Homo sapiens: one gene and its partner. The protein of the gene in region 1 purifies or fractionates together with the protein of each later gene. This does not show direct contact. Each region holds a gene or a part of one and is shown in the gene's direction. Other genes may lie near its edges.

Region 1 (7,026 bases):
CAGCTTTCCTGCCCAGAGGCAGACAATGCCATCTCCATTACAGGGCCACATTCAAGCCTAAGACATCTGCTTGGGGGTATAGAGGGGACAAGGGAGGGATGCGTATTTCAAATGAAAGCAGCTCAGCAAGGATGCAGAGGCAACATTTGTAACTGTGAATCATTAAATATGATGTTTTCTTCCAGGTATATAGATGCCATTTTAGTAATTACCTGAATTTTTAAATGATAGATTGGTGGCTTAAGAAATTAGTATATACTCAGCCACTTGCATACGTCTTAGAATTATAAGCCAAATTCTAAATGATTTTTAAAAGGAAGAAAATGAATGTTTATTAGGCTATGCAATTCGGTTAATATTCATCAAGATGCAGTTAGACTAGAAAGACTTTGTTATAAGTCACAATAAATCAAAACTGTACCGAGGTACTCTATATTGTCAAGTATGTTTCTAATCCATATGTGTGTGTGTGTGTGTGTTCTGTAAGAAGATCCCTGACACCCCATACTATCATTTCTTTCTTTTGCTTAATATCTGCCCATCTCATTTTTATGCTTTCTTCTTCCTATAGTCCAATTTCCAGAACTGTTTGCCCTGGTTTTATATTTTTGAAGAGTGATATAATTGTCCAAATTTATATTCACATGATCATATAAGAATCAACATAAGAAATGCAATAAAGGATAAAACTATAAAAGATGCCTTGACGATAATTAATATAAAGTTTAGGAACATTTCCTCTTATTACTAAATGCTTTTTCATATTTAATCATTCAAAAATTTATTATTTTAACCCTGGGACTTTGAGGCAGAAGATTTAAATTAAAATATCTTCTCTACTTCTACTGCAACTACCAACTATGAGTGTAGGCACTTCTGTTTCTTCTACTGCTCATCTTATAAAGGTTACTTTGGGACTCATATGAGATTATAAGTACAAAAGCAGTTTACAAACTATAAAGAGTCCTATAAATAGAAGGTGTTATTGATAAACTATTGTTATTTTCTAGAATGGAATTGAATATTAGGCAGCTATGCCTTGGAGTCCAGCCATGGAGGTGCTTTCTAAACTTCTGAGTTTTATATTTTGAAGATGATTTTATCTGCCAGAGTCCAGTCCAGAAAACAAAATCCACTACAGGGAGCTCAGTAGAGCGACTTTCTAAGGGAAGCTAGCTATAAAGTATAAGGAAGAACAGAAAAGCCAACCAGGGGTGGTGAGACCACCCAAGGATCGAAGCTATTACCAGGCTTAGGGCTGGAAGGAAAAAAAAAGGTGCTGCTCCTAGGCCCCTGGCTGGGGGAACTAGGACCACAAAGGAGATGTACCCAACTCTAGAGATGCAGCCCCAAACACGGAGAGTAGAGAAGGACATACCCTGGCTTCTCTCTCCTTCCCCCCCTCCAGACTCATGCCAGGCCTCCTTCACCCAAACCCAGTCTGAACACAGAGGGCAAATGAGCTTGGGAAATGAAGGAATCAGTTCAGATTGAGCTGGAGATACAAAGGAGCTGAGAGCAAGCAGGGGCATTCCCAATATCTTAGTGCAAGCAACAACCTGTCTGTATTAAACAAAATATAGAAGCTTAAGGCTTCTTCAGGAAGAACACTTTCCAGGTAAATAGGACAGCTGGCCTAGGCGGCCCTCTTTCTGTTTATCTCTTTATTCAATCTTTCCCTTAAGGGGTTCTCTCTTTTATATGATTGATCCACCATGATGCCTGCTTCCACTGTAGCACACCCATTCAAACACGGCCCAGTCCGCCCATTGGTTCCCAGTGCCACATCTGAGATAGGCTAGGAGTTTCTGAAAGAAAGAGGTAAATGAAAAATACTGAGAATTAAAGAACTTACATCTATTCCTTTAATAAAACAGTTGCTCTCAGATTTTAGGGTCCCTGTTCTGTGTGCTTTCCTGTGGTATGCAAACTTCAGCCCAAAGGACTGGGACAAACTGCCGAGGTCTGTTCTTTCTTCATTTCTGCCCTTTCTGCGCTTCAATAGCTACCCCTCACCCTACGCTACCCTCAAGAAATTTTGACACTTTATGTCAAACCAAGAAACAGAATTTATCCTAATCTGCTGGCCACCTCCATTTTTCCTTCTCAGAATGTAACATCTGGCAGCAATAAGTTTTTGTCCTTAATTGCGATCCTACCATTCACATGAACGGCTATGGTTTGACTCTCCCTGGGCCATCAGCAGCATCATATCTTAATTCAATATTACAGTTACTCAACTTATATAATTAATGCACACACACAATTTAAATCGTCAAACTCTGATTTTAGTTCACTTATATTTAACAACTCCCAGTTTGCCAGTGAAAACTTCTTTTTCAGTGGATTCTGATGGCAGCCAAGCTCCTTCGTCTGGGGTGCCATCCCTCCCTACTCCCCCACCACACCCACTTAGCGGTTGTCTGAGCTTGAATCCAGTTCTGTAGTGGAGACGGCACTGTCTCCCTCTGGGGGCAGAAAGCTGGCACTGTCTTTCGTAATATTGAAACAAATATTATATTAATGCGATGAGTGTGTCAATCTTCTTTTGGTTAGAATGATTTTCCACAGTGAATAATACAACTCAGTGAGAGAAAAATAAATGAAACATTTGTTTGAAGAAGTTAATGAAATAGAATGTTCTAGTGGGTGAAGTTTTGTTTCTTGTTTCCTTTCAGACATTTCAACCACAGACTGAGAAAACTAAGCAAAGCTGTGTGGAAGAGCAGAGGGTAAACAGAATTCATCTTTTCAAATAACTCTATTTCAGCTCTATAAAGAAAAAGTCAGTAAGAGAAAAGTGTAACTGTCAAAATAGTCTTGGGCACTTTGAATGGAAGTGAAAAAATATACAACATAATGTTGGCACTTTCTAGTCAATCAGGTATTGTAACTCACACACCATGTGTGACAGAAAAGAGGAAAACATTGTGAATAGAGATTTATTTCTCCCCAGTATGATTTCTTCCTTCAAATGAAACAATGCTTTGCCAGGCAACCTTCATGGGGCTAAGTGAGTAAGAATTTGGGAACATTGCTACTAGCAAACAATATTTTCCCACACATGTACCTGACAAACACTTTGCTCTCAGAATGATAAATAAGGGAGTAAAGGGGAAGGTGGCTATCAGATCTGAATGGGGAATTCTATGTCCGTGGAGTCAGCTTTCCATATGCATCCAGTTAAATGAATCCTCCCCGCTTTGCATGCCACCAAATTGCAGCTTGCTTCTGCCTATCACAGAAAATTATGTTCTAAGAACTAACAATCTTCTGTACTTCATCTCAGCTGAAAATTACAAAGGCCAACGTTGCCAGCTTAAGAGCCTGAATGTTCATGCTGTGAGTTTTGCCAATTAGACATCAGACATGAATATTGTAAATCCTGTCTTTCTCCTGGTCCTCTCACCCCCTCCCACCTGAAAATATTTCCACATGCTCCATTTCCATAGACGTTTGGTAATAAAATCGATCCACCCTAGGACAGAAAGCAGTTGACAGGCCCTTAGGGAAAACAGATTTAGAGTTATGTAGAAAAGAGAAGGAACAAGTTGCTGTCTTCGGGAGCCGGCTGACACACACCCTCCTGTGGTTATAAGAAGTACTACCATTTGTCAGAGGTAGAATTCAACTTCACCCAACTTTTAAAGTTTCTTATATTATTACAAAGAGCCCAAAAACTTCTTTGTAAGAGATAAAACGTGCCTCAATATAATGTTGTGTTTTTGTAGATAACATACAAGGGTCACTATGAGAAACATGGGCATTATGTTTTTAAGTGTGTTTACATGTCACCTGAGAAGAAAAATCAAACTGATGTAAAGGTAAGCTGAATCTCTGAATGACCATTCTCAGCATGACTAAACTCTGGACTAGCCCTAGAGGAAAATGTAGGGGAGGCAAAGTTTACTTTTGCTTGCTCTGGGGTTTCTGTCTTATGGCTGGCACTTTTGTCCCTTCCCTCCCTCCCCAGGCTCCTCAAGCCTCTCTACTACAAAACTCTGGGTCCCAGAATCTTCCTGATCCCCATCCCATGCCTCGGCCCACATCTCGCTCTGCTTCAGGACCTGTGGCTGCAGGTGTGATACTCATGGACCTCAGGTGCCCATGGACTGCTGTGTTACTGCTTCTGAGTAACATTTGGTGTTTTATAAGAAAGTTTTCTTGACATATTCTACCATATGCTCTGATGGTGGGGATCTCAGCAGGGGACGGCTAAGAGGAAAAACCATTTTGGCCTAATGAGTGACACATTTTACTGTCTCTTAAATTCATTCTATGGATAACTCCATCTGTGTTGGGTTGCTCAGAAGTAAAAGAATGAGGCCCTTGTCACTACAATGACAATAATTCTTTTCACTCAGTCCCTTCTTGTAGATTCATCGGCCAAAGGGCTGGAAATAGCTTGAAATGCCATCAGCAAAAGGGCTATTTACTTTTTCCAAATCTGGTTTTATTTCCCATGGAAGTAATAGTTTCCCTTCAGAATGTTATTTTCTTCTGCCATCGATATCCTTTAGATGACATCTCTAAGACTACACCTAACTATAAATAAGTTAAAACATATCCATTTGCCAAATATATGTGGAGTTCTTAACTGGTGTGTAAGATACTATGTGAGATAAAATGATGGAGAAAACAAATTCTTTCTCTCCAGGATCTTAGAGTTAGAAAAGAAACAAAAGGCACTTACAAAAATTATTGTAAAACAAGACAGAATGTGGGAGGTGCTATGTGAGTAGTACCGAGAAGAAAAAAAAGATCATGCTTTAAGGGCTTGGAGTAGAAAGAAATTAGTTCCTGGCCTCTGGTGTTCATAATGGAAATAATTGTGTGGGGCCATGGAGGATGAGTAGGATTTGAGCAAACAGAAGTGAATGGGTGAGGCCGTTCTCCATGAAAAAACTCATAGGAACCAAAGCATGGAGACAGAAAAGCAGAGCACAGAAAAGCAGCCAGCCAACTGGTACATAAACCATCGAACAGTCAGAAATCATTTAACACAAGCAAATGTAAGAAAAGTTTTTTTCTATTTTTTGATATTTTCTTCAATGCAAAGATAGCCATCATATACCACAGGATAAAAGTTGTTTCATGTTTTCATTTATAAAATTATTCTACTCAGTCTTCTAATAAAATGCACACAATTCATTAGTGTACATGTTACTTTTTTAAAAGCAGAGAAGCACCGAAAATAAAACATAACTTCCCACTTCAGACAAGGGAGAGAAAAAATTAGGAAGAGATTATTATAATCTACTGAGTTTAGATTTAGTGTTTAACTCAAAAGGTTATCTTAGTAATGAGTAAACAAACAACAATGAACTTGATTGCAAAGGAAAACATAAATGTCCAAGTAAAACTTTCCAGGACTCAATTACTCAAGTCAAATATTTAAAATACTTTTTATTTAGTGATATACTACAAAGTTTATTTCTATTTTTTTCTTATGGCAAAATCGTATTTCAGAATATACCCACCAATATTAAAAAATTAATGAACAATAATGCCATAACTTTTACAAATAAGTAATTTCAAATTATATTTTACAAATATTATACATTGGCACTTTTGCAGACCATATATTAGCTAGCTTCTTAAAAGTAGAGGGCACTTCTAAAAGCCATTTTTATTTTAGATTCAAATGTGAGCTGATTCAACATTTCCGCCTACTTCCAACAGTTAATAAGATACATATATAAAAGCAGACAGTCCTCCAAGCAGAACAGTACTTCTGTTTGGGAGTGAAAAAAAAGAGAGAGTCCAATCAAAATCTATTTCAGATAACATCCCATCGACGGCTACAAGCTTACAGAACACACAGCCCGAGGATGACACTTGGGCAATTCAAGAGCAGGGGGGTCCAGAGTTTGTCCATCTTCATCTGCCTCTACAACCAATATTAGAGAAGTCCAGAGACTGGGAAAACCGTTGTGTATCCAGTAATTACATGACTATCATTAATATTATCTAGGAAAGAAACTATCATTCATTAAAGGGCTATGCCCAGTTCTGTATGCTTTACATGCATTATTTAATAAAAATCATTTAATTCTCCCCAAAATACTGAAAGGTAGATATCATTTTTATTTTACAGCTAAAAAAGCTAAGGCTCAGAGAAGTAAAATAATGCTCCCAAGATCACACAGCCCATAAACGGCAGTGAGACAACTGATTCTAATGCATGTGTTCTTTCCATAGCACAGCTACTCTCGTGAGTACTGGACTGAGGGATTAAGAAAAACTATTTGGCAATTCCTGCCTACTGTTTCACTCAACATATTCCCTATGATCCTGGCTTCCCTGCGTTTGGTTTTTCTATTTTCTTTGCTACCTTCCCTACACACTTGACCAAATACTATGAGCTTCTGGCTGCATGCTCTTTTTCTCTCCATCAGGGAGCTCTCGTGTATTCTGACATCTTTAATGAACACATCTAAGATGTCCACATGCTTGACAAGAGCCAACAAATTGAAGTGGTTGTCAAAAAGCACAAAATTAAGTTGTATTAGTAAAAATAGGGCTGTGGTCAAGGCAAGGAAGTGGATGGATGCCCCGTGCTTGGGGTCGATCAGGCCACATCAGAGTCAAGGTCTGATTTGGAACCCCACAAACAAAAGGGAATTCATAATCAGGTGATGGGTCTGAACATAGTCACCTAACACAAGAGAACTGTAGTGTCAACCTGGAGAAGAGAAAGCAGCCAGCGAGTTCGAAGGAACACTAAACTTTTTCAAATGTTGGGAGGGTTTCATAGGAAAGAGGAAATAACCTTATTAGGTGTTGCATCAGGAAAAATGGATACTAGTTTCAGGTTAAAAATTATTGAAAATATTACAACTATGTATAAGTGAAACAATAGGATCTGAAAAGTAATAAACAATTAGCATGTAAGATGTTCAAGGAAAGAAGAGTTGACCATGGGCTATGAAAACTGGGAAGGACTTGTACTGGGACACACTAAGAGCCTGTGATACCCAATTCTCTATCTCTAACTGTATATTGCTTTCTGAGCTCAGGTTCTAT
Region 2 (7,026 bases), on another chromosome or scaffold:
GGATTGCCTGAGGTCAGGAGTTCAAGACCAGCTTGGCCAACATAGTGAAACCCTGTCTCTACCAGGCGTGGTGGCGAGTGCCTGTAATCCCAGCTACTCAGGAGGCTGAGGCTGAGGCAGGAGAATTGCTTGAACCCAGGAGGTGGAGTTGCAGTGAGCGGAGATCGCTCCACTGCACTCCAGGCTGGGCAACAGAGCAGGACTCTGTCTCAAAAAAAAATACGTAAATAAAGATCATGGTGGCCACAGTGAAGGACTTGAGCCTCTGCGATTCCTGAGGGTAAGGACTGCCTTAGAAGAATGTCTAATAATTCTCCCCATGGGGTAGCTTAAGACTTTTTCCTGATTAAGTTCTCTGTACTCCCATCACACCCAGCTCAATTATCATTTCCCTGACAAAGTCCTCCCTGGCTTGACCAGGTAAAACTAGTCTCATGTCTTTCATGGGTGTTTTGTGCCCCTACAACTTTTGGTCAATCCATTTATCATACGTTTATCATCTTGTTCCCTCCCTCCCTCCCTTTCTTTTCTTTTTTTTTTTTTCTTTCTTTCTTGGATTTAAATGCTTTTTGTAATAAAATACACACCTATCCATCCATTTATCCACCCAAACCCAAGTAGTTACAGCATGGATTTCTTTGAGGCAGAAGCTAGCTATTTCTTGTTTATCTTTTGTCTGTTATCAAGTTCAGTGCTGGAATGAGTGAATGAGGAAATACTTGGTTCCCTTTGAATGGCAAAAAGCGCAGTGTCCTTCTGTCACATAAGAATGACAAACACGCCAGCCCAGCAGACCAACAAGCCTGAACAGGTTATAGTTATCTCTACTGCCTTAACACAAGGCCCAAAGAGCTCTGAGTTTGAAATGTATCCTAATGCCCTGAGGCACCCATTTTCCAAACTGATCATCTTCCCCACTCTATCTGGGCAGGTTCTTCAGACCCAGAAGAAGAAAGTGTTCTCTACTCCAACCGAGCAGCATGTCACTTGAAGGATGGAAACTGCAGAGACTGCATCAAAGATTGCACTTCGTAAGTGGCCAAGGGTAATTTTGGGATGCCTGAGGGTCTCAGAAGAGGAGGCTGGGTTAATCTGGCTTGTTTCTTCTTTGGAAGGATCCCATCAATTACATCTGGGACAGATATTAAGAAAGTGTCACTGAGTTTCACCAGGTCACTGAGAATGGGAGTCTTTATTTGGTCCTTATGGCCCGTGACTTGCATCTTTGGAGTCTTGGCTCTGCTGCCGAAAAAGGAGTGGGATGGGCAGTTAGAAGCAGGCCGTAAAGTCTTTGTGCAATTTGAAACCTGGGAATAAGGTGGAGTGGCAGACCAGTAACTGGCTTGCCCAGGTGCTTTTCTGGGATGGGAGTATGTGAGGGGAAGGGAGCGAAGGAAAGAAGGAGGAATAGAGGTTAATAGATTGTCTCAGAAGGAGAAAGGAAAAAAATGGTATTCATGAATGACCAGTTTTAGAGGACACTGAACAATGTTTCATATCTCTTTTTCTTCAAGCCAGTCTAATATTCTTTTATCATCATTAAACTCTCACATTTACCTGAAATGTGTTCTCAGATCTGATGTCCTCTGACATTGCTTTAGATTCCTGCCCTGGTGATAGCCAGGAGAGCAGGAGGGGTGTGAGCATACTCACAGAGCCTGTGCTGAATTAATTTGTGCCATGCCTTGTGCCAGATTTCCCTCTTTGAGTGTTCACAACCAATCTGTGGGGTACGGTTACCATGTGTCCCAGGCCAGAACTTGGTTGCTGAGGGTTGGGGCAGTAAAGTGATTTACCTGGGTCACATAGTTAGCAGCAGAGGTGGAATTCAGACACCACCCCATCTGACTCCAAAGCTTGTTTGTTATTCCCACTAGACCACAACTGTAAAAAAACATAGTAGCATGAAAGCCATGAGGCTTTTGTTCTTGATTTTGGGGGAACTGAAACTATGAAAATTGATGCATGTGCACACACATTTAACAAAATTCATGTTTCTCTGCCTTCTTTCTCCTCCTCACTTCAGTCTACGTTGAAAAATCCCTGTTCTGAGGTTTGGCGTTTTTAGCCATGTCTCTCGGCCAGAAATTACTTCCTGTACGCTGAGTGCTCCAGATAACCCTGCCTGGAAGAAACTGTAGGGAAACCCTGGTGGCTCAGCAGCCAGCCAGTTGACATTTTTGCCTCCTATTCTAGAGCACTGGCCTTGGTTCCCTTCAGCATTAAGCCCCTGCTGCGGCGAGCATCTGCTTATGAGGCTCTGGAGAAGTACCCTATGGCCTATGTTGACTATAAGACTGTGCTGCAGATTGATGATAATGTGACGTCAGCCGTAGAAGGCATCAACAGGTGAGCTCCATTCCCAGCAGGTGGTCTCCACGGCAACTCCCTGTCCTTCTTGATTGGCTGCGGGCCATTGCCTTGTCTGTCTTCTGAGGGGATCCCTTTGGCTACACTTAAAAAACTCCCGATGGGCATGTAGGGGAAGCTGAGAAAGGAAAATCTGCTTTTTTATTTAGCAGGTTTTCAGGGAGTCAATTACTAAGATTGATTGATTGATATTTGCCTACATGTGCCTCACAGTATCTATGTACACAGTAATATTTATTGTACACTGTTTAAGGTGTTGTGCCCGGTTCAGTGGGGGATACCAAAATGAGAAAGAGATACAGACCCCACTTACCTTCAAAGCGCTAACGCTAATTAGAAGAATAAGACACAAGCCCAAGCAGCTATGACAAGCCTAAAAGGATATGGTTTGTGGACATGGTTCAGTATATTGCACTGTGACCAATCCAAGAGGTTCCCCAGGTGCAATTCCTTTCTGGTCTCTGAGCAGTTATTGGCTTTTATCTCATGGATATTGTCATTTGTATAACTGATCATGTTTCCCCTCTGCGTGTGCGGCTAGAAAGCCAAACACTGCACTAATAGCAAACCCTTAACAGGGACTTCATGGTATGTATTTAGTGCTTTATTTCTGGCTTGACTTGTCTGCCAGCATTCTTTGTTTTCTCTTTGCCTCCTTTTTAACTTATCTGATTCCACAAAATCTACCAATTATGTGACAGACTTTGCTCTAGGACCTGGGCTGATGACTGAGACATACCTCTTCCTGCCGTCATAGAGGTCCCGGTCTCAAGGAAGACACCAGTCAGTAATAGGCAAGCACAATACAACATGATAAGCGCCATGGTAGGAGGCAGCACAGGGGGCTCTGAGGCCAGAAAGGAGCCACCTAGCTAGCTGAGAGGGAGAGGGGGAGGCCAGAGAGAGCTTTTCAGAGGAGGTGAGCTAAGAATGAGAGATATGGGGTAGGGGGTTAGCCAGAAGACAGAGCAGCGTGTGCAAAGGTGAGCAAGTGTGACAGATCACAGGAATTGTAAGAAGTCGGTTTCACATGGTGCTGCAGGCAGGAGCTCAGCTTGGGACAGGTTGGTGAGGCCAAGTCACACAAGACCCAGGGTTCAGGGCTTGGACTTAATCCTGAGCAAGTCAGCCTTTATGAAAAGGTCTTTAGCAGTGGAGCAACATGAGCAGATTTGTATTTTAGAGAAAAGCTCTTTGCTGCCATGTTGAGGGATGATATGAAGGGCAACAGAATAGAAAGGAGTCATGCAGCAATCCAGGGGAGAGGGTGGAGAGAAAACAATGGGACCAGTCAGGGGACATGTAGGAAGTATATCAACAAGCTTTAGTGGTTGCGGGGTATCGAGAAGGGAGGAATAGAAGAAGACACTCAGATTATTGACATTCAGTCGGAGGTGACTGTGGGACATAAGACTAGAGATCTAAGTAGGACGGTTGGGTATTTACATGGAACAAAGGAAGAAAATACAGGCCAGACATAAGGATTTGAGGGTCATCAGCGCAGAGGTGGATTAGGGCTGTGAGAAAGAAAAAGAACATCACAGCTAGTGTGAAGAGGATGGAGCTTTGAGAAACTCCAGCATTTGAGGGACTTACAGAGGAACAGCAGCTAGAGAGGTGGGAGGAAACAGGGCATTGATGTCCCAAGGGAAGGAGTATTTCAAGAAAGATGGAGACATCATTAGTGTCAGGTGTTCCAAGGAGCTTACATTAAAGGTTTGGCAATGAAGTCACCGGTGGCTCTGATGGAAGCTGGTCAGTGGGATCAGGAGCCAGAGGGCAATGCTTTCAGAAAGTCAGGCTTGAAGAGAAGCTGGGGAGTATACCTGTGATGGCAAGGGGTGTCCAGTATGGTTTTATTAGGTGAGGAAAGAGTTAAAGGGACTTAAATGCTGACGGTTGGAGTTAGTAGAGAGGAAGGATGAAGATGTGGGAGAGGGAGGTGCTGCCTGGGTGTGGTCCCTGAAAGAGGCAAGAGGAGATGGGATCCAGAGCTTAGGTGGGTGGATTGGTCCCATTGTCTCTTCTGTTGTGACAGGAGAGAAATAGGAAGGATTGGGCACCCAGGCAGGTAGGTTTGTATTTGGGGTATGAGGAAGTTTGCTCTAAAAAAGGGGAAGGGCCAGGGAACAGGTTTGAGGAGAGCAGAGGTTTGAAATAGCTTGGCCGCCAGGAAAACAGCCTAGCCAGAGACATCTTGGAATTTGTAGTGATACAGTCTGTGGTTTTTATTCTTGTAATATAGGAAACATGGTTGTAGGAGCAGAAAAAGTATACAGTTAGCATTATTCACTCATTCAACACATAACTGATTGGGCCTTGGTGGTTGCTAGGTGACATACCAGGTGCTGGAGATCAGTTGACAGAATGAACTTGGTCTCTGGGTGGCATTTTAAGCTGAAATCTAAAGAATAAGTTGGAGTTAGCCGGGCCTGGAAGGTGGCAATCTTTTTCCAAAATGAAAATGGTTGTTCTGGGTAGAGGAAAAAGCATGTGCAAAGTCTTGAACAGAAGGATCAGAAGAGAATGTGGCTCACAGTGAAGGGGGACAGGAAGGGGTGGGGACCAGATCTCACATGCCACATTAGCCTAGGGAATTGGGAACCCCTGAGGAGTTGTAAGATTTGAGAATGACATAAGCTTTGCATTTTTTAAAAAGCCTGAGCATTAAACAAATGTCAGGTGCTTGCATGGTTGTGTACTTGATTCATTGATAAAATATGAAACAAAATGTATGATTCTTTCTTGGAGAAACTATAGTCTTTTTGGATCATGGTTTAAGTATCCTTAACAAGCAACAGATCACCACTTTAAAGGTAACATAGTTTGACCAAGCTCAAGGAATGTCATGGGGACTGATCTGAGATGGTGTTTATGGGTTCCTGTATTGCACGTGTTGGAGGAGCTAAAGAGGTGGTTCCGACCAGGGGGAGGGTGGCAGCTCTGGCTCTTCTGAAAAGGCCTACCTCCCATGGGTGTGTGAAAGGAGAAATATCTTCTTGACCCAGCTGGAAACCTCCCTGCAATCCTGCCTTCTTTTCCAGAATGACCAGAGCTCTCATGGACTCGCTTGGGCCTGAGTGGCGCCTGAAGCTGCCCTCAATCCCCTTGGTGCCTGTTTCAGCTCAGAAGAGGTGGAATTCCTTGCCTTCGGAGAACCACAAAGAGATGGCTAAAAGCAAATCCAAAGAAACCACAGCTACAAAGAACAGAGGTGAGCTGTGACTCCCTGCCCAGAGTCTTGCAATCTCCCACTATCCATTTTCTTTAGAGTAGTCCTGCAAAAATTGGCATTGTTTAGCTGAGTTATAAAAATAATCTTAGGAACAAAGTATAAAACAAAATACAAGTCTTCACCTCTTAGAGACTGTTTTCTCAGCTGTATAGTGAGGGTGATGATAAAGTCTTCCTCACAACCATGAGGACTGAATGACATAAGACATGTAAAACTCCCAGCCTGGCACATAGGCATGCAGTGTGAGTTCCCTTCTCTTTCCTCTGGTAGCACTTGGGATGTAGTACTTAGGATGTTTTTGGTTGCAAAAACAGAAAGCTCAACATGGTAAACATAGTATAGGGAATTTATTGGCTCATAAAACTGAAAAATCCGAGAGAATTCAGGCAAGGTTTGCTCCAGCAGCTCAGTATATTAACAGACTAACTCCATTTTTCTGTACTTATCACAGCTTTATTTTCTGTTGTGCGTCAGCTTTGTCTTTGGCAAGCTTCCCTCCTAGTAGCAAAATAGCTATAGCAGTTCCCGGCCTCACATCCATACCCCATGCCTCATGACCCAGAGAAAGAAAGTCTTTCTCTGATAGCTCACTAGGAAAAGATAGGATTTTTTTCCCCCAAAAAACTCTAGCTCACATATTTTCTCAATCATTTTCTCAATCTATTCTGGTCTTCATGGTCACAGGCCATTCCCTGAAGTACACACCATAACCGGCGGATGAGATTTTGTGATTAGGTCACCCTGAGGCACCTGCCCCACCTCCAGAACTAGAGGGTGATGCTTCCCAGGAGCATGTACACTGTGTGAATCCCTGGAGAAGCATGAAGAAGAGAAAGGAGATCCAAGCAGCCAAAAACAGGAGATTCCTCACCTCAACTGTATGAAATGAAGAGGCCATTTGTCAGGCACTAGGAAGCTCTTTTAATGCTCCAGGGGAATGGTCCCAGCCCAGCAAGCTAGGGATTCAGGCTAGAGGTGCAGAAGGGATCAGAGATGGAGCCCTGCCATGTGTAAGTGACCTATAGGTGTTAGGGGAGGACAAGAGTTACTCACCTTCTACAGGAGAATGCCTCTCTGGTCATGGGTAGCATTCACTCTGGTTTGTGGGAGCCTGGTAAGTGTTCCCCACTCTTCTCTAGGATGAAAATGTGCGGTGCTAATGAACCTGATGGCATCAGTGCCATTGATTTCATTCTTTCAATCAGTGCACCTACCATTGATTTCATTCTTTAAATCAGTGCACCTACCATTGATTTCATTCTTTCAGGGTCACTGAGCCATGTGTTCCAAGCCATGTGTATGCTAAGCAGTGTGACACAGAGGACAGTCTTGGCCCTCAGGGAACTCTCCCTCAGTTGAGGGACTGAGACATGTAAACAGTGTCTTAAAACACAAGGAGGAGGAACATGTGCTTTAGAGTC

Evidence for each region. The genes of interacting proteins can lie anywhere in the genome.
Region 2: the proteins of MEPE (region 1) and TOMM34 purify together in Homo sapiens (affinity purification with mass spectrometry; 2 studies listed by BioGRID and IntAct, with this or other methods). This does not show direct contact.

The regions. Positions count from the first base shown.
Region 1 is NC_000004.12:87,835,954-87,842,979, forward strand, and holds part of MEPE (matrix extracellular phosphoglycoprotein isoform a precursor), read left to right. Parts: intron 1-2,678; coding exon 2,679-2,732; intron 2,733-3,731; coding exon of another isoform or gene 3,732-3,824; intron 3,825-3,973; exon of another isoform or gene 3,974-4,101; intron 4,102-7,026. UniProt on the Homo sapiens protein: Promotes renal phosphate excretion and inhibits intestinal phosphate absorption. Promotes bone mineralization by osteoblasts and cartilage mineralization by chondrocytes.
Region 2 is NC_000020.11:44,950,391-44,957,416, reverse strand, and holds part of TOMM34 (mitochondrial import receptor subunit TOM34), read left to right. Parts: intron 1-931; coding exon 932-1,031; intron 1,032-1,796; exon of another isoform or gene 1,797-2,196; coding exon 2,197-2,349; intron 2,350-5,414; coding exon 5,415-5,584; intron 5,585-7,026. UniProt on the Homo sapiens protein: Plays a role in the import of cytosolically synthesized preproteins into mitochondria. Binds the mature portion of precursor proteins. Interacts with cellular components, and possesses weak ATPase activity.